Linked DNA regions of Homo sapiens. The protein of the gene in region 2 interacts with the protein of the main gene of each other region in a pairwise test. Each region holds a gene or a part of one and is shown on either strand. Other genes may lie near its edges.

Evidence for each region.
Region 1: the proteins of PID1 (region 2) and GOLGA2 interact in binary tests that used the Homo sapiens proteins (3 or more experiments, as listed by UniProt).
Region 3: the proteins of PID1 (region 2) and BANP interact in binary tests that used the Homo sapiens proteins (3 or more experiments, as listed by UniProt).
Region 4: the proteins of PID1 (region 2) and CBY2 interact in binary tests that used the Homo sapiens proteins (3 or more experiments, as listed by UniProt).
Region 5: the proteins of PID1 (region 2) and NOTCH2NLA interact in binary tests that used the Homo sapiens proteins (3 or more experiments, as listed by UniProt).
Region 6: the proteins of PID1 (region 2) and CRX interact in binary tests that used the Homo sapiens proteins (3 or more experiments, as listed by UniProt).
Region 7: the proteins of PID1 (region 2) and THAP1 interact in binary tests that used the Homo sapiens proteins (3 or more experiments, as listed by UniProt).

What each region holds. Positions count from the first base shown.
Region 1 is NC_000009.12:128,259,008-128,262,507, forward strand, and holds part of GOLGA2 (golgin subfamily A member 2), read right to left. Parts: intron 2,751-3,500; coding exon 2,661-2,750; intron 2,555-2,660; coding exon 2,447-2,554; intron 2,253-2,446; coding exon 2,165-2,252; intron 1,796-2,164; coding exon 1,458-1,795; intron 1,183-1,457; coding exon 1,069-1,182; intron 385-1,068; coding exon 160-384; intron 76-159; coding exon 1-75. UniProt on the Homo sapiens protein: Peripheral membrane component of the cis-Golgi stack that acts as a membrane skeleton that maintains the structure of the Golgi apparatus, and as a vesicle thether that facilitates vesicle fusion to the Golgi membrane.
Region 2 is NC_000002.12:229,023,473-229,026,880, forward strand, and holds the end of PID1 (PTB-containing, cubilin and LRP1-interacting protein), read right to left. Parts: intron 2,637-3,408; coding exon 2,160-2,636; 3' UTR 501-2,159; downstream 1-500. UniProt on the Homo sapiens protein: Increases proliferation of preadipocytes without affecting adipocytic differentiation.
Region 3 is NC_000016.10:88,006,934-88,010,433, reverse strand, and holds part of BANP (protein BANP), read right to left. Parts: intron 1-3,500. UniProt on the Homo sapiens protein: Controls V(D)J recombination during T-cell development by repressing T-cell receptor (TCR) beta enhancer function. Binds to scaffold/matrix attachment region beta (S/MARbeta), an ATC-rich DNA sequence located upstream of the TCR beta enhancer.
Region 4 is NC_000013.11:45,705,320-45,708,819, reverse strand, and holds part of CBY2 (protein chibby homolog 2), read right to left. Parts: intron 1-3,500.
Region 5 is NC_000001.11:146,219,022-146,222,521, forward strand, and holds part of NOTCH2NLA (notch homolog 2 N-terminal-like protein A), read right to left. Parts: intron 1-3,500.
Region 6 is NC_000019.10:47,841,381-47,843,824, reverse strand, and holds the end of CRX (cone-rod homeobox protein), read right to left. Parts: 3' UTR 501-2,444; downstream 1-500. UniProt on the Homo sapiens protein: Transcription factor that binds and transactivates the sequence 5'-TAATC[CA]-3' which is found upstream of several photoreceptor-specific genes, including the opsin genes.
Region 7 is NC_000008.11:42,836,174-42,840,325, forward strand, and holds the end of THAP1 (THAP domain-containing protein 1), read right to left. Parts: intron 3,209-4,152; coding exon 3,013-3,208; intron 2,164-3,012; coding exon 1,789-2,163; 3' UTR 501-1,788; downstream 1-500. UniProt on the Homo sapiens protein: DNA-binding transcription regulator that regulates endothelial cell proliferation and G1/S cell-cycle progression.

The DNA.
Region 1 (3,500 bases), on a different chromosome or scaffold from region 2:
TTCCCCAGGGTGAGCCATGAGGCTCAACTGGGCCCGTAGCTGCTGATTCTGCTGGGTGGCAGCTTCCAGGCGCTCCTAAGGGGCCAGAAAAGAGAGTGAGAAGGCATGGAGGTTGCCAGGTTGTCCCCCTCGGGGCCCTGCCCTCACCAACTCCCTCACCTGGGTTTCCTGCAACTCTTGGCGGGCCATCTCGGCCACCGCTTTGCCCTGAGCTTCCTGCTGCTGCAGCTGGTCCACGAGCTGGGTCTGCAGCAGTAGCTGATTATGCAGCACCTCCTTCTCAGAGGTCAGCTGCTGATAGGCGGCCACATACTGCTGCAGGTGTCCCAGGTACTGGTCTCGCTGCTGCTGCAGACTTTGAGCCTCTTGGCTCTTCAGCTCCACCTGTAGGAAGACCCTGGGCGTGAGGGCAGGTGGTGGCCTGCTTCCAGATTCAGGGCCCATAAATAGGGTAGCGAGGGCTCTGTCACCTGCCCAGACCTCTGGCCCCTTGCTCCAGGCCTAAGTGACTGCCTCCCTTGTCTAGAGCCTCGTGCCTCCTTCCCCAGCCTCAAATTTCACATCCTTCTTCCCACCATTTAAACCGTAGGCCACAGACTGGTGGAAACGCAGAGGGAGCCAACCACCATCTGCTAAGTGTGCTACATGCCTAATGCTTTCCACGTATTATCTCATTGAATCCTCAGCACCTCTGCAAGGAAGATGCTAACTTCCTTTTTAAGTTAAAGAAACTGGGGCTTAGAGATGCAAAGTAGTTGAATGATGACCAGTGGAGCAAAGGCCAGAATCCAGTTTGAATCTAAGGAGCCTCTTATGCCGCTGTCTCTTCCCCTGTGATTGGGAGAAATCCATGCCTCTAGCTGGGACGATGATGTCCAGACCTGAGAGGAGCCCAAAGCTATCCACCTCTAAAAGTCAGAGGGCAGGGAGCAAGAAACAGTCACAGGACTGCCCTGGAGGGTGCTGGGGTCACCTGTGCCCCAGGCTGGAGCTGCCTCTGGCCTCACACCACCCCTCCCCAGAGGCTGGTGCCCGCCTCCCAGCCCTTCTTGGATGGGGCGGGGTTACCGTTTCCTTCAGCTCGCTCAGCTTCTCCTGCAGCTCGCCCAGCTTCTTTCCCAGCTCCCTCTTGACGTGCTGCTCCGACTGCAGTGCGCTGGTGATCTCCATGTTCTCATTAGTCTGGACAGAGAGAAGCAATCAGCGGCCACCCACTGCAGCTGGAGACCCCAGAACTTGCTGCCTTGGTGTCTGCCTCCCATGGCACCGGGAAGGGTGGAGGCAGGTTAGAAAAATCATCCCCTCTCCCCCACAGCCATCGGAGCAGGGCTCTGGCTCACAGATGCCTCCAGAAGTACCATTTCAAGTGAGGGCTACACTGCCCCACTTTACAGGTGGGAAAACAAAGGTCTGGAGGGCTAGGGAGGAGGGCGGGCTCTCCAGGTGGGGCAGCGCACCAGCTTTACAAATCCGCTCTGCAGCTCAGCCAGCTGCTCCTTGAGCTCCCGGTTCTGGGAGAGTGCGCGGCTGATGGTAGTGCGGTCGTTCTGCATGGTCTCCAGGATTTGCCTGCGCGCCTCCGCCTGCTCCCCCCAGAGCTCGGCCGCCCGCTCCAGCTCCAGCAGCCTCTCCTCCTGCTCCCGGTTCAGGCGACTCAAGCCCTCATTGTCTTGCACCTGGGCTTGAAGCTGTCCTGCCAGACCCTCCAGCTCCTTCCGCAGGTGCTCAGCCTCCGCTTGTAGCTGCTGCTCCACCTCGGAGGGCCCTGCTGGGGGCTCTGGGGGCGGGGGTTCAGCTGAGAAAGGACGCAGACAATAAAAGCCTCTGGATTCTCAAAAAAACCCTCCTCTTGGTCCATACCTCCTCTCAAGCTCCCCAAACTTGGCCTCCCTGCTGATGATTCCTCGCACCCGGATGTTAGCCAATCTTCCAAACCACTTTCCGATAGCGACAACTGTGGGTGGCTGACAACGGGCACTCCTTCGTCTTTGCTGATGGGGCACTGAGGCTCATGGAGATGACGAGACTTGCCATCTCCTGGCACAGACCTCTTTCCCTCTGCCTCAAAGCCATTCCATCCACCCAACTCCCTGGGGCATTCTAAACCACCCCCACAACCCTCTGACACCATTCCTGCTCCCAGGTCACCCCAGCCCCAGCTTACCCATCTGGTTCCTCAGTTCAGCCAAGCTCGTCTCCAGCTCCTGTACCCGACTCATGCTACATTCCTTCTCCTCTCTCAATGTGTGCACCTGCCCAAAGCACAGCAAGAAAGGGCCCTGGAGAGGGGCTGGTGGCTGGACAGGCTACCATCTCCCTCTGCCCCCACCGCCACAAAGCCCAGACCCATGACCACCTCTGGCTGTGCTCCTCCCATTTCGCAGATGCCCAGAAAGATCAAGTGACCTATCTAAGGTTGAGGGGGAGCTGAAGGGTCAGGTCTCACCTGCTCTGACATCTGCTGCATCCTCTGCCGCCACATGGCGCTCTCTCCTTTGAGATTCTCCGCATATTTATCTCTCTCCATTTGTAGTTGTCTAACCGACTCCATTACCTGCAAGAATGGCCACAGAAATGAGGAAGGACTGTCACTGGTTGTCACCTACTCCTGGCCACCTGGGGTCATCTTCCTTCTACATCCCTCCCCTGCAAAGCCTCACCTGCCCCAGGTGTGCTTCCAGCTGTGCCCGCTCCTCCATGGCCTGCTGTAACTGCTGGTTAGCATCAGGGGCTTCACACCGGCTTGAAAACTGGATGGTGAAGAGCGAGAAGTTTAGATCTGGGGAGCCCAGGCCGTTCCAAATAGTGCCCCTTAAAAGGGCTAGGGCTAGGCTCAATGTGCAACTCAGTCAATACAACTCTGCTGTCAAGTTTCTTTGCTTTAGAAATAAAAAATAATTTTAAAAAGATCTCAGGCCAGGCATGGTGGCTGATGCCTGTAATCTCAACACTTTGGGAGGCTGAGGTGGGTGGATTGCTTGAGCTCAGGAGTTCAAGACCAACCTCGGCAACATGGCAAAGCCCCGTATCTACAAATACAAAAATTAGCCAGGCATGGTAGTGTGCGCCTGTAGTCCCAACTACTTGAGAAGCTGAGGCAGGAGGATGGCTTGAGCCTGGGAAGTAGAGGTTGCAGTAAGTATCACTCCAGCCTGGGTGATAGAGCGAGACCCCGTCTAAAAAAAAAAAAAAAAAGATCTCTACTCTCTATTATTAGTGAAAGTGTTGGCTTGAACCTCAGAAGGAAATAAACAGACTCATGAGCTAGCCATATAAATGTAATCTCTAAAATAATGGTTTTCACCCATGATGCTTTAAAACAAAACAAAACAAAACAAAACAAAAATTGTCTTAAGCCCTAACCCTAAGATTCTGATTCCCCAGGTCCCCAATTTGTAGATTTTTAGCACTCTCTAGAGGATTTTATGCCAGGACCGGAACAAGGACCCAAATTTTCCAGCTCTTGGCTGGAGTCTCCCCATGCCCTGCATGATCCCTAG
Region 2 (3,408 bases):
TATATTTTTACTTTGGAAGCCTTTATATTTGTTATTGATTCCATGAAGGGCATTGCTCAAAAAACATAGGCTCCATGGCCACCTGTCTTGCTTGTTTAATGGGGCCATTCTGAGATATCATAGCCTGGAGGAGACATTCTTTAACCAGTCCCATCAGAAAAAAAATCACTCAGTGTTTACCTTCCAGGATTTCAGTCTAGGTTCTTCAAAGACATACACGAGATTTTTGTAAATAGCAATCATTTGCAACATGTTCTGGAAGACCCCGCACTGAAACAAACCCACCATACTATAGAACTATTTCAACTATTGCCACTTCACCATCTCAGGGGCATGCAAAAATTAAAAACAAATTGAGCATTTAGAAAATAAAACAAGATTTTTAAACGCAATCCAGGAATAGGTTATTTATGACCCAGTTTAAATATATTTTTTGATAGAACTATTTGATCTAATTTGTTCTTCATGTTTTTATTACTTGAAAAAGGACAGACACAAAGTATGAAACTCCTCAGCTTTATTAATGCAAACATATTTTTATTAAAGAATGAATGCATTTATGCTAAAGAATAGCTTACATATGTTGTAAAGCAACAAGCATATCTTCAAGAAGTGAGTCCTCCTCAATATGACTCCATGCTTATTCTACATGCCTGAAAACTGGGCCCACACACAGGGGCACACGTACACGCACACAAACGCAGATACGGACACACAGATATGCAGACCGAAATGCTGACACCATCGCTCTCTAGATTGGATTAGCTCTCATTTAAGGCTTCTTAGGTGCCGCAGTGCCCCTAATATTACCAGGATTGAAAACAGACTTTTAGGAAGGAGCAGCATTACTTCGAAAAGTAGTCATCTGCTCTTGTCCTCCAATGTGTGTATTTTAACAAATACAATTTCATTCTATGTTGACTCTGTGTTTATAATATTTAAAGAACCATGAAATTAAGAAATCTCAGGATTGTTTTAGTGAGAACTTCCCATTCAAAATAAAAAAAAAGGGCAATTCTGACCCTAAGATATCATCAATTTTATGATAACGCAATAAGATTTCCCTTTAGGTTAAGATGACATGGGTCTCTAGACAAGCCAAGTTTATCTAACTCATTCTGTATCTAAGTGCAATGCTGAGTGATGGGGGCAAGGTTTCCTCGGTGATACCAAATCAGATTTGAAGCTTGCCATCAAGGATGCATCAGACAGGACCATTAATTAAATAAGTTACCATAAATCTCAGCTGGATAAAAGGAGAGTTGACATAGAGTGTGTTCACTTGCTGATCACTTATTCCTCTTTGCCAAGGCTTCTGTTGTTGGGGTTGTTGTTTTAAACTCCTGGTTTGTTTGACTGTTTATTTTATTTGCTTGATTGTTTTCTTCCTTTTGGTGTCCTGCAACATATGCTGAGATTTCATCCCTCTAAGGATGTTAGAAGGGGAAAGAGGGTGGACAGGGCAGCAGGAGGGAAAGGGAAGGGGTCATTAGTAATTGCAAGTATTCTAAGAAAATAGATGAAGTGAATACAATAAGAGGGTACTACTTGGTATATTTATGTAAATAAAAGCATTATCTGTAACTGTGAATTAACTGCCAACTATCAGGTTGTTAGTTGTAAAGCTCAATAAAGGCTGTGCTGATTTGCATACAGAGGAGGGCATCTGCCGTGGGAGAGGAACAGAGGGCCCTCCCGAGATGTTCCTTCCTCCCTGCGGCCAGCGTCCCCATCAGCACCCTGCCCACCCCACTAGAGATCCCATAGGTGCCCCTAACATTCTTGTGGAATTTCATAAGGCAGATCGGAATGGCCCATCCAATAACAGCTGCAGAGTATTTGCCTGAGCGTGGTGAAAACTGGCATGGAGCTCTCCCACAGAGAGGCATTGGGAAATGAGAAAAATAAGAGAGCCTAGAACCTTCCTCCCCATCCACACTCCCACCCTCCTCACAGTCACAGCAGCAGCAGGTTTCAATGTAACGTAATTACTTTAATGATACATTTCTTTAGATTTAGAATTGCTCTTCTGAATTTAAAAACCTTGGTCAGCCAATAGTTTGGCAGTCTTTTCATCCCAAATTTGAAACGTTGCTTACTCATCTATTCCCTTGAACTCCGTGACCAATGCTGCCTTTGCTGAAGCGTCTCAAGTTCATTCAGCCATCATCGGATTCCAATTCCTGGGAAACCTCTTCGGAGGAGCTGTTGCTGTGGATCCGCCCGTCGCTCTTCATACTGTGGAAAGTCTTCCTGAAGGCCTCCATCATGGCGTGGGCCAGTTTCTTGGCCTCGAGCTTGCTCTCGCACTCCACGGCGTGGCAGTCCATCTGGTAGGACAGGTCATCATTGATCTCCCTGTAGACCCAGGCGAAGATGTTGGGGCTCACGTTGTGGTCGGCGGTGCAGTAGGCGATGCGGGCCACCTGGAAGGTATCCATGTGCACTGTGGCCTCCCCTTTGTGGTCGAGATGATGGAGCCAAACTTGGAATGGCCGGATTTCCAGGAGGGCATTGGCCGGAAAGACATCCTCTCGGGCTAGCGTGTGCTTCTTCCAGAGCTCAATGACTGGCTTTTCTGTGCAGCCTGACAAAAACTGCATGCCAGTGGTGGAGACTTTGCCCAGGTAGGTAACCTGCAGATGCAAGAGAGGAAGAAAAGGGAGGCATCAGCAGAAGGCTCTTTGTTCTGATAGACTGAATGAGTAGCTGTTCCACACAGTCATGGTGTCACATTGGGAAGGTGAAGACACTTCTTTCTTGCTCCCTGAAAGAATAACTCATCAAAATTTCTACCTTTTCTCTCTAATGAGTTGCCTACTTGGCAAATGTATTGAAATTATTTGAATAGAGTTGGATTTTAAAATCTAATTTCTAGAGAACTACTCTCCCTCTCCTTACTCCTTTTTTAAACCCCAATTAAAACGAAGAGTATGATCTTTTACATAATTTGGCATTCCTTTAACATCATAAAGTCACTCAAAGTTTATTTTCGGCCAAACACACACAGAATTGAATAATAGGAAGGAATCAAAAGGACACTGAGTTGGAAAAACAAAATCTTTATTAAACTTATCTCCTAGCCTGGGTCTCTTTCCAAATCTCTCAATGTTTGATTTCACTTAGGCTGCCTGCTTCTAATGCCAAGGACGCAAAAACTGTTCTCTTGAAATTATGGCCTAAAGCATGATAGTTTTCCTTCCCAAGATAATTTTTAAAAATAACAGCAGTGCCCAGTTCTTTTTTAACCTAAACTGTTTTTGAACTGATGAGCATCTGTTGATCTGATAATAAATGAAAGATCTACAGAAGAATCAAGAGTAGAATGCTGGCTTATCACCTAGCTAGGTAGGCAGTATGAAAACTAAGAAAAATAATTCCAAACGATTCAAATACTGTCTTTTTAAA
Region 3 (3,500 bases), on a different chromosome or scaffold from region 2:
CCACGTAAGTCATTCTACTGCCTGGGAAGTCCATGGGACCAATTCCTGGCAATAATTCAATTAGAATTCAACCACAATCCTTCCCCCACTGAAATGAAGTACCTAACATTTTATGTATAGGATCAGTCACGTTTTGTAAGAATTATCAAATGCATACACAGCAGAAATTTAAACTCTTGATTAAGAACCTAACTAAATCCCTTAATGGACAAACAGATCCCATGCTAGGTCCATTTTAGCTCAACTTGTTTCTCTAACTCAGCTGGCAGCTTAGTCATTGAATGATGAGGCCCCACACACTTTCAAGTACAAAACAAAGCTATGAGCACACCAAGACCAAAACTACTGACAAAAGGCAAGCACAAGAATGAAGACACAGTCTACTGTTCCCTGCTTTCAACAGTCAGGAACTACCGTCCTTATTCCAATGAGACATAGTCTACTGTTCCCTGCTTTCAACAGTCAGGAGCTACAGTCCTTCTTATTCCAATGAGACACAGTCTACTGTTCCATGCTTTCAACAGTCAGGAGCTACAGTCCCTCTTATTCTAATGAGACACAGTCTACTGTTCACTGCTTTCAACAGTCAGGAGCTACTGTCCTTCTTATTCTAATGAGACATAGTCTACTGTTCCCTGCTTTCAATAGCTGAGAGTTAGCGTCCTTCTTATTCTAATGAGACATAATCTACTGTTCCCTGCTTTCAATAGCTGAGCGTTACCGTCCTTCTTATTCTAATGAGACACAGTCTACTGTTCCATGCTTTCAACAGTCAGGAGCTACCGTCCTTCTTATTCCAATGAGACACAGTCTACTGTTCCCTGCTTTCAATAGCTGAGAGTTACCATCCTTCTTATTCCAGTGGAGCGTGTGTAATGACAAACGGAATTACCTAAGTGAAAAAAACTAGAATAAAATGATATGGTATCTTTGCAGTACAATAAACTGACTCCAAATTTGATACAAAACAGCATGTCAATTCACACAAGCCATTTGGAATTCTTAAGAAATAACCGTTTTGAAATCTGTGGTTCTCTAAGACTTAAGGCACTTAAATACTTAAATAAGAAGCTAAGAACAATCTGTCTCCTGCGGCTCCTATTTCTTATCAGGGCCTAAAACAACTAAATAGAAAGACAAGCACACCCCCTTTAGCACTTCCCATATTCCTAATGCTTTCCCTCGTAGAAACTCGCTGATTCACCACCTGCCCAGGTGCTCTGGGACAGAGGGCCACAGGCAGGAAGATGCTGGCCCCATTCTCGGCACATTCGCACCCCCCATGGAAGTGCTGAAGAGAGGACGCCACTACGGGCTGAGATTAAATCTGACATAAGAGACATTAATGGATTGGCTATTTTCCCAACATTTACATACACAGCAATCATTTAAAGGTGACTTCCTCATTTTCACCAAGCCACTATGCCAAATAAGGCAGCTCAAGCAGATATTTTCATAACACCGACCCCACTGGGATATACATTCCCAAGGACAGTCAGTGAAACAGATTTATTACAAAAAATGTTTCCTCCTAATGGGATGAGAAAACAGAATGGCTCTGGATGATGACCTCTCCTTCAAAATAAAGTCAAATTTAAGATGAGAAAAAGTTCTGCAGTTCACCCCAATCCTAACAACCTGTGTTGTACAGCAAAATTATGTTTGATGAGAACAATCAGTGGTAAAGATGGCTATAAAACTCTGCTCAAAGCCTAGCTAAAGAAAAATGTCTTACACAAAACATCAAAAAAACTTAAACTCAGACACAAAGAAAATTTGTATTTTTCCTTATAGATACAGATCAATACTAAGTAAGCTCCAAATTTGATATCGTCTCATAAGTTCATTTAGATTTTTTTGTTTTTATGACCCTGGACTCCCCAGAATTACCAAGTTTTTTTGCCTTAGCTAACACAGTTTCAATCAAACAAACATCAGGCCTGAAGGGGGTGGCCAGATCTATGTGGGGATTTATACAAAATCCACATCCAAAAATAATTACAACAATTAGTCTGTCGTTACTGCAATGTGATTTTCAATTTCTATGAAAATGAAATCAGGAGCATCCCTCCTTTCCTCAAATTTCATGTGTGAAAAACTCCATTGCCCTGATCCTGCAATTAATACATACACAAAAACCTGCACCTCAACGTTCACAGCAGCATTCCTGACAACAGCCAAAAAGTGCAAACCACCCAGATGCCCATCAACTGATGATGGATCAACAGAATGAGGGCCATCCATACCTCGGCACATCACGCAGCCATGAAAAGGAACAAAGCACTGGGCAAAAGCTACAATGTGGGTGATGCCACAGGATTCCATTTAGAGTCAAGGTCCACAACAGGCACATCCACGAGGACGGAGATGAGCTGGGTGCCGGGGCTGGAGGCTGGGAGAATGGAAAGTGACTGTTGATGGGCACAGGGCTTCTTCTGGGGGTAATAAAAAATATTCTAGAATTAGTCCGAAGTGATGACTGTACAACCTTGAGAATATACTAAAAACAACTGAGACGTATGCTTTAAAACAGTCAATTTTATGGTATATAAATTAGATCTCAACTTGGAAAAAAAAAAAAGATCAACTCAACGTCTCTTTCTCTCTTCCCTCCATTCTGCCATCTGAATCCTAGCAATTTGTATTAGAGGTAAAAGCAATTTTTGTGGAAGACATTGTTTTCAATGTTTCAGATACGGTAATGAGTCTTCCTAACAGGAAAGCCTTTGTTCACTAGACAAAGCAACATCGAGTTGCTAGGAAAAATCAACAACTCAGACGCAGATGCAGAAAAACTGAGTTCTTCCTAGTAAGCAAGGAAAACACATGCTTTACAACTCCACGCACAAAGCTAAGTCTGTTTGGTTCTTTCTTTTCTCCACGCTGTAGTCACTGACAGTCATCTGGTCACTTACGGTGACAGGATGAAGGGCACACAGAGGCTCTCAGGGGAAGACGGCTCTGAAAGGCACACTGGGCAGGCCGAGGGCCAGGCGGGAGGGCACCTCAGAGCCCTGCAGGAGAGAGGCCCCCGCTAGGAGTCCAAGTAGGACAAACAGCTTCACATCCTTCCAGATCTCGGGGGAAATGGGCAATGCATCCTGTGCCATGGAACCCGTGGAAGCTGCGTCCTCTAGCCCAGCAACCTGCCTCTGAGAGCCCACGTCCAGACACTGATCCAAGAGACATGAAAACACAGCAGGCCAATGCTAGTTTCAATAACGAAAGGTTAGAGGGGGCCATCCCTGGAAAGCATCCAGACCTGATGAAATAAGCAAAACTGGCTAAAAATGACTCTGTCCATCTGCACTAACGTGGAAAGATTTCTACTGTGTAGGGGAAAGAAGTGAGTTATAAAATCATAAAATGTGCACCAAAAAACCCCAAAAGGTTTAGAGATCTCAGAATGGTGGGATCACAGTTATTTTCCCTTTAATCTTCATGTTTATACTGTATCACTATCTTTTTTTTTTTTTTTTTTTTTTTGAGACAGAGTCTCT
Region 4 (3,500 bases), on a different chromosome or scaffold from region 2:
GTGGTCAAGTGCAGTGTTTCCTCATGGCTTAATTTCTTAGAACATTTAAAAATTTTTCAGTAGTCATATACTTATTTTAATGAGTAATGGGAAAACATACCTATATTAAATATACAGGCATTTTTAGACATGACAAGGATCATGATTGAACTTCAGGAAAACATTGATCCAGAACAAACTTGTTTTTTCCTGTAGCATTTCTCTGATTCTGATCAGAGCTAGCTGGATTTAATCCTTAAAGGAAAGCTCTTGGCCTTGTGAAAATTCTTCACCCTAGTCATGTACCCACTCAGGATGTTATTGCACCAATTTTTCCCCTACATTAGTGTCAGTGAATCAACTAACATTAATTTGGCACGTACTGTGTTCCAAGCTCACAGACCCTGCCCTCAGGGAATTTCCAGTTGATTTGAAGAATCAGTGAATAGCACCAATTACTTCTTGATGCAAATGAGAGAAGTCAAAATGCAGGAAGCATTAACGCAGGCAGCAAGGTGTGGGGAATAGGGGACTAGAAATGATAACATCTCCAGAGAATTCTGGCTCTGCACTATATGAGTGCATGACCTTTACAAAGTCACTTCATTTCTGTGCCTTAGTTCCTAGAAAATGTGGATGTTGACATGAATGAATCAGGGCCAACCCATATATTTTTGAAATGCCCAACTCTAAAAGGCGCTATTCACTGTTACTGCAGGGCACAACCTGTACAACCCTCTATAACGACCTCACCAACATCTGCCCTACTTCTCTCAGAGGGTTTGTTGTTCAGAAATAAAAGGAGACTCGGAACATTTTCTTTGTTTATAAAGAGCTGCAGACATACAAGAAGGGCTTTTAGAAGAGACATTGCTTAGCATTTCTTTAGAGAAAGATTATATAGAACAAGAAAAAAAATAACACTGAGTGACTATAATGTGTCAGGTTATATGCTAATTGATTTCTGTATTCATATGTAATATCTTACCCAAAGAACTGGCATGATTCTGCATAAGATTACATAGCTGATAAAGGAGTGGAACCAGGGTTTAAAATGAGGATATTTGACTCCAAACTCCATGTTTATTCTAGCACTTCACAATGCTCAGACATTTTATTTTGCATGTGCTAATATCATTACTTTGCAATGGTTCTCTTACAACCAGGCCTGTCCTCTCCCCATATGAGTAAGTTGCAATTATCTAAGCACAGTGACCTATCCCTTGTTTTTGTGACATCCCAAGTCTTGGGAATTAGAAAGCAAATTTCACATGTGGTGGAGGCTTAATGAGTCCTTGGCAATAACTGAATCAACCAAAATACACTGAAAGATTGGGAGGAAATACTAGGTTGAACCATAAGAAACTGTTAACATTTTACCATTTTTGGCCTACAAAAATGGCCATTTCTTTTGCCTTAATATAGTTAGTGTATTTGATAAGCTATATCCTCATTTCCATTCATATTTTAAGACTTTAAAATAGTCCCAGGGCAAAGCTGTTATGGTATGATGTAAAATCTATAAGCATGGAGTTTTCCTCACGTGAATTCCACAAACCCCTAGGTTCATCCATGTACTCCCTTAGAGGAAGCTCCCACCACCCCCTGCACACAAGCACGCTAGTGGTCCCTTTCATCATCTTGAATATATAATCCAACGAGGGTAAACGCCCTAAATTTCCAGTAACTTTGGGCTCAAAAGTCCTTCCTTTGACTGCTCTTGAGAAAGTCATTTTGCCTCTCAGAATGTCACCTCTAAAATAAGCCTAAACATGGCTGCTCTGCCTACTTCCTGGGGTTGCCAGAGGACAAGAAAGTGGTAGCCAAGCTGTCATAAAGACTAAACAGATGGTCAGTTCTACTGGTAAGGTTTAAACATACCCAGCCTAAAGCGCTATGCAACGTGGAGTATATTTCTTTACAAAAGGGCTACCCAAAAACTAAGCATCTGAGCTCAGCGAACATATGCAGTTCCAGGATTCCAGACCTCCTTGGCCTATGTTAGAAGCCAGTTCCTTCTCAGTAGGACTCCTCGACCAGTGGTATCACTGGATTGGTTTCATGGGCCAAGCTAACCTGCCCTGATATCCTTTAGCCCTTGACAAGAGGTCTATGCCAATACAAAGCCCCAAGAACACCCCAGTAATGTTCTCCTAAGCCTGGGAGGTACAGCCTGTGTAGCATGGTGCAACTGACCATGAAAATAAAAGATTGTCTCTTTTCTGGTCTCTAGGAAATGCCCTCACATAGAGATCCAGTAGGTAGGAAAGAAAAAGGTTGGCTTCTTCATGGAGGAATGAGATATGAAGCTGATGCAGAAGGGGAATAAGTTGGTCATGGGCTCATCATGCCTTCCTGTCGGGTGCTAGAAAGGTGCCAAGAGACTCTGTCCTCAGGGGAAATGTGCTCATAGCTGTAACCCAATGATGCATTAGTGACAGGGATCCAGGAAGGGCCATGGGCACGAACATCGCCCTCACAGAAGCCTGAAGTCCCATCTGTGGATTGGAATTCTTCCTTAGCATTAGGTCTGGTGCCCTCCTTGGTAAATATAAGTGGTCCTGGAAGGAAAATGCCTGAAATCTGCCAACAACTGTGTCTTTGTCAGATCACCAACCTGGTGGCAAGTGAAGAACATGGGGGAAGGGGACAATTGAAAGAAGGGAGGCAAAATGCAAAGGCCAAAGGGCAAAAGGAAAAGGGGAAGTGAAAGGACCAAAATCTCTTACTAGTGCTACAGGACTTGTAGCAACAGGTCTCTCTGGGTGGGACCTTCTGGGATAGAATTACTGGGGGTGTGGTTTCCCATCCAAAGAGTTTGGGGATGGGATTGAACAGCAACTAGCCAGGCTTAGCTGACACACACTGATGTCTCTCCACCCCTGGAAAAATGTGGCTACCACAGCCCAGAAGAGATGTCCAAACACTGCTGATAGAGTCCAAGCCTGCTGACCAAGTTTCTTAAACACCAACTTTGCCAACATTACTGAGGGTTACTATCAGAGAACATTCAGCCATCTGAGGTACTATTAAAGCATGTGAAGTTGAGAGGACCCAGGATTCTGGAAGGAAAAGCCAAATATGATACTGATTTTCATATGAGATGACAAGGCTGAGTCTCATTATCATTATTTTAAATTAATTCAGCTCCCTGGTACCATGGCAAAGTCAATGGTGGTTTTAATAAATACTAACAGGTAAAAGGATAATTCACAAGGTAAATGTGATTGATGTTGACAGAATTACAACGTTAACAGCAAAGAGGATAAAGAAGATGTCATATGTAGTATGTTTGCATACTGTTTAACAGAGACTCTCCTGAAATCTTCCTGGGAATTCAAATTGGCGGGTGCTGTCAGCAGGAATTCACTGCTTCTGAGTAACAAGCACAAACAAAGGGGAAGGAGAAAAGGCAACTGGGAAGGATGAAGGAGGCACCGGAGGGTGCTATTGGAGCTCAGTCTGACCTGGTGTAGCTCTTTCATTAATGATCTAGGAGTAAACAATGCCTTAATGAAATT
Region 5 (3,500 bases), on a different chromosome or scaffold from region 2:
CTGACCAAGCTAACTGGCTAGACCCACTGTACTGGCATTTATCCATTAGGTCAAAGTGTCAGAATTAGCAGTGCATGGTAGACATAGCATTAGTCCTGCCTTTCAGGGATGTTAAATGCTTCAAAAATCTTGGCTATCTAGAAAAGGAGGACAGTAGCCGATTACGTCACCCACCCAAAATCATGTATTTGACTCCAGAATACACTGCTTTTCTCCAACATATTTTTTTATTAAGTATTAAAGTAAATGTCAATTTCCTAGACATATACAGCTGAAAGCATGCTGATTTACGATACAGTCAGATAAGAACTTTCAAGTAGCTACAGAAAATAGCAGTTAACAAATGAATTAACCAATATCATTAGAAACCAAAGGATTAAAAAAAATTAACCTATGAAATGAACAATTTTTATATCAACATTGGTAGCAATTTGATGTTATGTTATATACTGCTAATTATTTCCATACATATTGTGACATATTTAAGACAAAAGACTAACACCCTTAATATTTAAAGAGCTTTTTCAAACCAGTAAGAAAATAATTAAATGAGTAAAAGACACAATTTACAAAAGAAGTAGGAAAAAAGGCAATACAAACGCCACTGATGATATGAAAAAACATTCAATATCACTGTAATGAGAGAGGCATATTAAGATTAAGTAATATTTACCACTTATCAAATGGTAAAGATTTTTAAAAATAAAACCTAGTGTTGACAATAGTATATTATGTGTGTGTGCATATATATATATGTAGATCTGTTCATAAACTAAAAAAAAAAAATATATATATATATATAAATAAATCAACAGCTTTTCTAAATCTAAGGGTAAAAAAACCAAAGACGTATACCAAAAAATTAATGGCAGCATGATTGTGGACATTTTATTTATGCTTTTCTAGATTCTTCAAACATCCTTAACTACTTTTTCAAACATAATTACTTTTTATATTACAAAAATAAAAAAATCTTGTAAAGGTGCCAGAGAAAATCAGCAAAGTATAAATATGAGTTAATTATCTGTAAACATAACGAATAATTCTGTTGCTACGTAAACCTACCTTAAACTGTTTCAATGTTTGCTTTTAGTTACAACTATTTTCCTTAACTCTCTTAGAAAGAATATGTCAGAGAAGCCACTACATATTACTTACTTTAAATAGTAACATAATGCCAAAGACTTGCATGAATCTCAGGATACGGTCTTTTACCTAAAATTCCTCATGAAGATTAGAATGCACTTTAAATGTTGTAATAAAGTAAATGCCCTTAATGTTTCTAACTAAAGAAGATCTAGCAAATAAATAAACCCATATTCACAGCAAATAAAAATATAATAAAATAATCGAAATACACATGTCCTCAAACTTCAATGTGTCTTGACAGCGTCTGAACCAAAGCATGTGTAAGGAGAGAATTAAACAAAAATGTCTTTGCTACTTACCACATTTACCATTTAGAGAAGTTAATATATCAGCACTATCTAGTTTTGTGATTATTCATACTTAGAAACTCAACAGAATAGATTAGTGAGTAAACAGTATTCAATTATTCTTATTTGAATGTTGGTTAGGTATACCAATAGAACAACCTCTCCCTGCTAGGTACCCGTTAAAATAGATTATTGAAAATATTTGAGGCTTAAAAACTTCCAGAATCTTCTCACACAAAAAAAGATGAAAATAAAAAGAGATGAAAAAGAAGCAAACAACAATTTTAAAACGTGCCTGCCTCAGAACAAGGCAGTTTATTTTAGAATGTAACCACAGCTTCTTGTACAACACCTTATTCATCAAGCACAACTGTATTTTAAAGGAATGCTATTTGTTAAAAAGACAACATATTTAGGATAAGGTATCTAACTCCAACCACAATATTATCATCATGTTTTCCTTACTTCACAAAATACACACATACATTCATCATATGAATAAACATATATAATAAAGGTGAGAGAGTTACTCTTAACCCAGAAACAGGTTCTGCAACACCCATAGATCCAACCTGTCGTTATGCAACAATGAGTCCATCTTGGCAAGATGTTTGGCTGATGTATTCAAATAACCCAGAGTTCTGCCAGCTGCCAGTATCCTGCAGAAGGAACTGACTCAGAGACCAGAAACTGCCCTAGGCAAGCCTCCAGGGAAAGGTGCTTCAGTCCAATGGGAAGAAAAACCCAGCCCCTCACTGCCTGGCCAGAGGACCCGGGGTACCATGGCTGGAGCGACGTAGCTGGCTGGAAATGCGAGAGGGGCAAGGGACACTAAGGTGAACCCCCAAGAGCTTGTTCAATCATACCTAGTAAAGGCCAAACTATTGGGGAGCTAGTAGAACAGGGTTTTGCCAAGACAAGTACAAAAGGGTGAGGGAGATATTAGTATGATTAATCAATGCCACCTGAGGCAGCAACTCTGGGTGTGTCCACACCACACTTCAGTCACTGCCTGGCTGTGACGAGAAGTTCCTTCAGCCACTGCCACTGAGAACTGCATCTTCCAAGGAAGATATTTCCACCATAACTTGTCCTAGTTCAGGCTTGGCATTCGGGACTAAGAACACAGCACTCTCTCTTGCCGCAAACCCACTAACAGACATAATAGACACCACAACATGTGCCAAATTTATATTTACACCCTCACCAGACAAAGGGGTTTTTGTCTTTTCCCCAAGCCAAGTTCTAATACTTCTAAATTACAACACAGAAAGAGGAAAATGGCAGACAGCTCACGACAGCAGACAAGCCCAGCAAGGGTGAGCTGGAGGTCGCCTTTCCCTGGTGGTATTAAGACCTGAAGTTTACTCCCAAGACCCTATAGCTCTGAGTCACCCTGACTGCAGGAAACTGCTTTCAGAGAGCATAGATAAATGATAAAATAACTGTATTTCATATTCCTAATTGTGTGCTTATCTGTCTTGTCTCCATGATGATGTCAGCTCCTTGGGAGCAGGACCATATTTTCTACTTGGTCAATGATTCCCACACATCTAGAAGAGTAGAATACCCTGTACTTGCTACCACATGATGCCAAGGGAAGCACACAAATTAAGTGTGACAACACACCACAATGCTCCCCCAATACACCACTAAGACAGCAGAGCTACAAAGATAGCAAATGTTAGTGCCAAGGGCTAGTGATCCTACCAGTGAATTACATGGAAACCTATGTATTTACATACACAAATTAATACAATAATTCCTTTGCTTTTCTTATTCCAAGCTATGGCTTTATCATCCCCCTTTCTTGGCTTTACTCTCCTTTTTAAGACCACAATGTATGTTCTGCCATACAGATAATATTCTCCTCAAAAAAGAGAGACAGGAGAAAAAACAGATCTACGGCAAACCTCCTACCACTACCAGTGATGCAGTTTGTCCCGTCTCAAGCCTATGAGCATATCCTTTCAGATCTGAAGCCACTTCCTTCTTCCTATCAAGGACAGTATTATCAAGTGTCTTTGTGAGAGGAGCAATCCTGTGCCCCTTCTTGCAGATTGT
Region 6 (2,444 bases), on a different chromosome or scaffold from region 2:
CCTCCTCCTCCTTCTTTTTTTTTTTTTTTTATTTTTTGTTTTTGGAGACAGGGTCTCTTGTTGCATCACCCAGGCTGGAGTGCAGTGGTGCAATCATAGCTCCCTGCAGCCTCAAACTCCTGGGCTCAACCGATCCTCTCATCTCAGCCTCCCGAGTAGCTGGGACCACAGGCACACATCACCACACCCGGTTGATTTTTTTAATTTTTTGTAGAGACAGAGATCTCGCTATGTTGCCTGGGCTGGTCTCAAACTCCTGGCCTTAATCAATCTTCCCTCCTCAGCTTCTCAGAGCACTGGATTACATGCGTGAGCCACTGCACCCAGCCCCTGATCCTTCATAAATTGGCTTTAGAGAGATGTCAAGGAAAGGAGGGTGATGAGACAGGAAACACATGGAGGGACCCAGGCCCCACAGACAGAAGGAACAGAGTAGTTCCTGTTTCTACCTGCCCCTCCTGGAGAAAACACGGAAACTAAAGAATCACCCAGACTTTAAATGAGATCCAACATTTTAATTGGTTTCACTCTGTGGGTGGACAGAGAAGGGGGACCCAGAGGCCAGTGTGTGGGGAAGAGGAGGACAGATAAGGTGACACCTTCTCAGGGAGGCTCCTGGCTTCTTCCTTCTGTCCCCACCTGCCTTGTCACTCTTCCTGGCTTTAGGACGTAGAACGTTTGAAATCCCCTGTGCACAGCTGGAAGAACCAACACTCAGGAGCCCAGCCCAGGAAAAGCAATCTGTAACCTCCTAGCTGGATTTGGCTCCCTGCCCTCTCCGGCTCCTGGTGGAGTCTCAGAAGACCCCAGGATCAGGCTCTCTCGAAGTCTTACCCCATCGGCCTGTGATGGGGGCCCCTTGGCCTTCACTACTTCTCACTCCTTCCCAGAACCTTGCATGCATCCTTCAGTCCCTCCCCAACTCCCATCAAGTTTCTATGACTTGTTTGCACAAGACACAGCCTCCCCGGTGAATAAGGAGAAGATTCTCTTCCACGCCTGAGTCCCGGCCTCCAGTGCAGAGCTTCCGTGTCTCCGAAGAATGAAACTTATAGTGGATTCTGGTCCCAACGTTTGCACAGACCCAGGGCACAATATTGTCTCATCCCTGCCCCTCCCGTGTGAATTTTGTCTAGCTCCCCCAGCCTCCCCAGTGACATATGTTGTCTTCCTCTGTTTATATTTTCATCCCACACTGGACTCTTGAGCCACTCCTGGGTTATTTTTGTTGTTGTTATTATTGAGACGGAGTTTCGCTCTTGTGACCCAGGCTAGAGCACAGTGGCACAATCTCTGCTCTCTTCAACCTCCGCCTCCCGGGTTCCAGCAATTCTCCTGCCTCAGCCTCCCGAGTAGCTGGGATTACAGGCGCGTGCCACCATGCCCGGCTAATTTTTGTATTATTAGTAGAGACAGGGTTTCACCATGTTGGCCAGGCTGGTCTCGAACTCCTGACCTCAGGTGATCCACCCGCCTCGGCCTCCCAAAGTGCTGGGATTACAGGCGTGAGCCACCGCACCCGGCCCACTCCTGGGCTTAATGTCCCAGAACCCAGCATGACTCAGGCCTATGAGAGATGAACACGTTTTATGTTGAATAAAAACCTCTTTGTGGGCTCTAGAGATCAGGGTGTACCCCTCAGGGGGTCTAGGCTGTGTGCACCTCTTCTGGTCTAGTGCTGGAAACGTCATCTGATACCTCCCGGCCTCTCTTCACATCTCGCCTTTCTCCTGACCCTGGCTGCTGCTGACGGTGTGTACCAACTCGTAAGCATATATTGTGCCCTATCTCTTCCCAACTCTTAGTTCAGTGACCTCCGGTTGCTAGCTTGAAGTCAGCCGTGGTGGGAGTATTTACACCACGGAAACTGACAAACACTCCACAACCAACCTTTTCCTCTTCCTTGGAGAGCCCATTGTTAGACCTCTGCCAGCACACCACTGTCTTCCTGCCCTACTTTTTTTTTTACACCTTGCCTTGTGAACTCCACCAATGAAGGGCTCTTGGAACCCGCCTCCCCACCCAAAAATGAAAGGAGAACTCGGACTGAGAAGGCAGGGACCCAGCACCCAACTTCTGAGCATCAAATGACCTCAATCCGTCTTCAGGTTCTCACAAGTGCTTGCCAGTGTCACCATAAGTAAGATTCTATTTCAAGAAATAATGGTGCCACCCCAGGAAAATGTCCTCAAGCCAAGCTCTATTTTCCAATCCCACCATCAAAACTGAAAACCAAAAAAAAAAAAAAAAAAATCTAAAAAAGGGAATGTATGTTTGAAATGTAGGGCTGCCTCCTCCAAATCTATTTCCCCCTCTTCCTATCTCTTGTTTATTTACAGATGGGAGTCTGTCTAGCTGCTGCTTCTCTGTGAAATAGCCACAACTATAGGTGGTACGTCCCAAGCAGCTACCCCAGTTCCACCAGTGTCTCACCTTTAGAAAAT
Region 7 (4,152 bases), on a different chromosome or scaffold from region 2:
TCAGCATGAGTTCTAAATGATGTTATCAGACTATGTAACTTCAAGTAATCTTTTTTTTTTTTTTTTTTTTTTTTTGAGACGGGGTCTTGCTTTATTGCCCAGGCTGGAGTGTAGTGGCGCAATCTCAGCTCACTGCAACCTCCACCTCCCGGGTTCAGGCAATTCTCCTGCCTCAGCCTCCCAAGTAGCTGGGACTACAGGCACTCGCCACCATGCCCAGCTAGTTTTTGTATTTTTAGTAGAGACGGGGTTTCACCATATTGGCCAGGCTGGTCTTGAACTCCTGACCTTGTGATCCATCCGCCTCGGCCTCCCAAAGTGCTGGGATTACAGGCGTGAGCCATGGCGCCCCGCCCAACTTCAAGTAATCTTCTAATCATTATTTCTATTTTTGAGATACTGGTTCATAAAACATCAAATATGCATGAATCACAGTGCTATCCACTGGCAGCATGGCAGTGAACTACAATGAAAACCAGTTCTACAAAAGACACTTTGAATGCCATTGTTTCACACCTTTAATACTGTCTTAAAGGTTCTATTGCTCTTCAACGATCTTAGTGTACTTTGAAATATAAAAGTAATAATTATCATTGGAACAGTTATTCTAAATCTAAAAAGATAACTCCCATAGCAATATTTGTTTACTCAGAACATATTTTCACTTCCAATATATGTAAAATTTCTCACAAAGAACAGAACTCACAGTTTGAACAGAAACCTCAGTGTTTAAATCTCCACATTCAGTAAAATAAACGCTACATAGTAGGTTGTTCTGAATATAAATCACGCACTTAACTAAATGGGATATAATTTCTAACTTGTGTTAAAAGTGAAGAAATAATTTTTTATGTGAAGCCTTGTCCCAACTCAGTCAAGTGCAAGATTATCATATGATACAAATCAAACTCTACTAACACAGCACATTTGTCAGAGACTTGAAGGCAGATACATAACTACAGCTGGGGAACTGGATGTCCTTCAGCTAGGGTGTAATGAAAGAAAAAAGCGTATCATAGATCAGGTCCCAGTTTTAATTACTTCATTGATGACAATGCCTTACTTTATTTATTGAAAAATGTTTCTTCCACTGAAAATACACTTCTAATTTTATAATGCAAGACAGTAGGGGAAAAAATAGGAGCCCATGTAAAAAAAAAAAATCCACTCTTAGAATCTGAAGTTATTGATCAGATATGCAATGACTTTTTTCTGCTGTGATGATAATCAAATCTTTTTTCTTAAGTACTGACTTGCCAATTTATCTTTGATAACTGATTCAGAAAGATAAATGAACCTTGTGACTTTACATATGAGAATATGTACATATGTATATATATATTCTAAGAAGTTATGTCCCATGATCTGACCCATACTTCTGATTTAAAATATAACTAAATTCTCTCAATAAAACAGTACTAATTTTAAGTTTTAAACTGAAATCACCCTTTTACCACACTGTTCTCATTCTCTTTACTTTTTATTTTTACATTATTTCTATAAATACTAAAAAAAAACCCCAAAATCCCCAATCTTGAAACCAACTTACATTAGAGGTCTGAGGTTAGTTTATAACTTTTAAAATATTTTGTTAAAATGTAAAAAACCTGAAATTACAAACAAAAAAATTTATAATTTTACAGTATATATAGAATTTTTTTTAAAAAAATATTCTGAACTGTTTTTATATAAGTAATCAAATGTTATTTTTTTAAATGAAACTCCTTTACAGGCTAGAGGAGGATATGTGGTATTGCCCCATTAGAAATCAATACACATTTCATTTTTTTATGCTGGTACTTCAACTATTTCAAAGTAGTCATTTGGTAGAATCACATAACCTCTTTCTGATACGTCGTCTTTCTCTTTCTGGAAGTGAACAACCTCCTTTAATTTTTCAAGCTGCCGTTCTTGCCTTCTGCATCGCTGCTGTGCGGTCTTGAGCTTCTTTCTGAGTTTTTCAACTTGCTGTTCTAGCTGATGAATCCTTTTCCGCTGGTGCATTGTATCCTCCACAGTATAGTTGTGGTCACAGAAAACTGAGAGATTAACAGGGGTCTGAAGAGGCGGCATTAGTAATCCAATAGCAGCATCAACCTGGGAAACAGGAGGCGGTAAAGGAGGTGGGGGAAGCTGTTCCTGTGGCTCCAGAAGATCTTCTTTCTAAAACAAAAATACAAAGTATGTTTGAATTTAGTAACTAAAAACAGTTTAAAAGAATCTGTGGACTGACCAGGCGCAGTGGCTCATGCCTATAATCCTAGTACTTTTGTGAGGAAGAGGTGGGCGGATCACCTGAGGTCAGGAGTTTGAGACCAGCCTGGCCAACATGGTGAAACCCTGTCTCTGCTAAAAATACAAAAATTAGCCAGATGTGGTGGTGCACGCCTATAATCCCAGCTACTTGGGCGGCTGAGGCAAGAGAATTGCTTGAAACTGGGAGGCGGAGGTTGCAGTGAGCCAAGATCATGTCACTGCACTCCAGCCTGGGCAACAAAGACTTTGTCTCCAAAAAATAAATAAATAAATAAATAATAAAAGAATCTGTGGAATTTAAGAAATACTGACTTTTTTTGGGAATCAGTGGTATAGAAACATTCCAAAATGAGAAAACAGTTTCAGTTTGAATAAACTTTTCTACCTGAAGTAGAGGGACGGTGCAGGAAAGAGACAAAATGAATCATCAGATCTAATTAAATATTAAGCACTGAGGAGAAAAAAATGCTTTGAAACTAAACTGTCACTGATAAAGAAAACCCAAAACTTATCAATATATAACTGGCAGTACAGAGTGGTTTTTAACTAAGTTACAAAGCTGGACTAAGTTTCTTAGTGTGAGGATATTTATCTTTAATAAACTGCATTTTGTGTTTTCAGAAGTGTATCACTGTTAACTACAAGGTTCCAGGCACATTTATTCTCTTAACACTAACTCAATTTTCCACATTTTAATCAATGAACACATCAGTTTGATAAACAAAAAGCAACCCAATATTTTAAAATGCATATTACCTTGTCATGTGGCTCAGTACAAAGAAATATTGTGGGCACAGCATTCTCTTTCAGTAACTTGTTGTTGCACTCTCTCTTAAAGCAGTCTGGAGTAAAGTGCTCTGAACAAATACTGCTATACTTGGTGGGTTTAAAGTTTTTTCTTCTGACAGCTGCCTCCCATTCTTTACAAAGACTGGGTCGAGTAAGAGGAAACCTAAGAAGAAGGCATAATTCAATTATCTGTCCTGATTTTTTAAATAAATAAAGGCACCCAAACTTTCCAGCTTAGGAAATATCTTACATTGGTATTAAAGATGTTACAATTGTATTATCCTATTGGATTAAAGATTAGCTCTAGTTATCTATTTATCTCATTTATTAATTTTTTAAAAATTTTTTTGAGATGCCGTCTTGCTCTGTTGTTAGGCTGGAGTGCAGTGGTGCAATCTCGGCTCACTGCGTCTCCGCCTCCCAGGTTCAAGCGATTCTCCTGCCTCAGCCTCCCAAGTAGCTGGGACTCAGGCGTGCGCCACCACGCCCAGCTAAGTTTTGTACTTTTAGTAGAGATGGGCTTTCACCATGTTGGCCAGGATGGATTCGATTTCTTGACCTTGTGATCTGCCCGCCTTGGCCTCCCAAAGTGCTCGAATTACATGCGTGAGCCACTGTGCCTGGCCCTCATTCATTAACGTTTAACTTTTTATACTGAGTTCACCAAAAGATTCAGGTAAAATACATACTATAGAGTAAATGTGCCCACGGCTCATGCCTGTAATCCCAGCACTTGGGAGGCCACTGTCCGAGGGACTACTTAAGTCCAAGAGTTCGAGACTAGCCTGGGCAACACGGCAAAACCCTGTCTCTACAAAAGACACAAAAATTAGCTGGGCATGGTGGTATGTGCCCAGGTACTCAGGAGGCTGAGACTGAGGTGGAAGGACTGCTCGAGCCTGGGAGGTCAAGGCTGCGGTGAGCTGAGATCATTCCACTGCACTCCAGCCTGGGTGACAGAGCCATACCGTCTCAAAAAGAAAAAAATAACCTGTATTCATATTTTTTACCAGTAATTTTCTGTGTGCTGCACAGAGAGACAAAGATTGCACATTTGTATCTGCGTACTGGGAAAAAGGGGCTTCTAGTTCTCTTAGCATCAGTCTG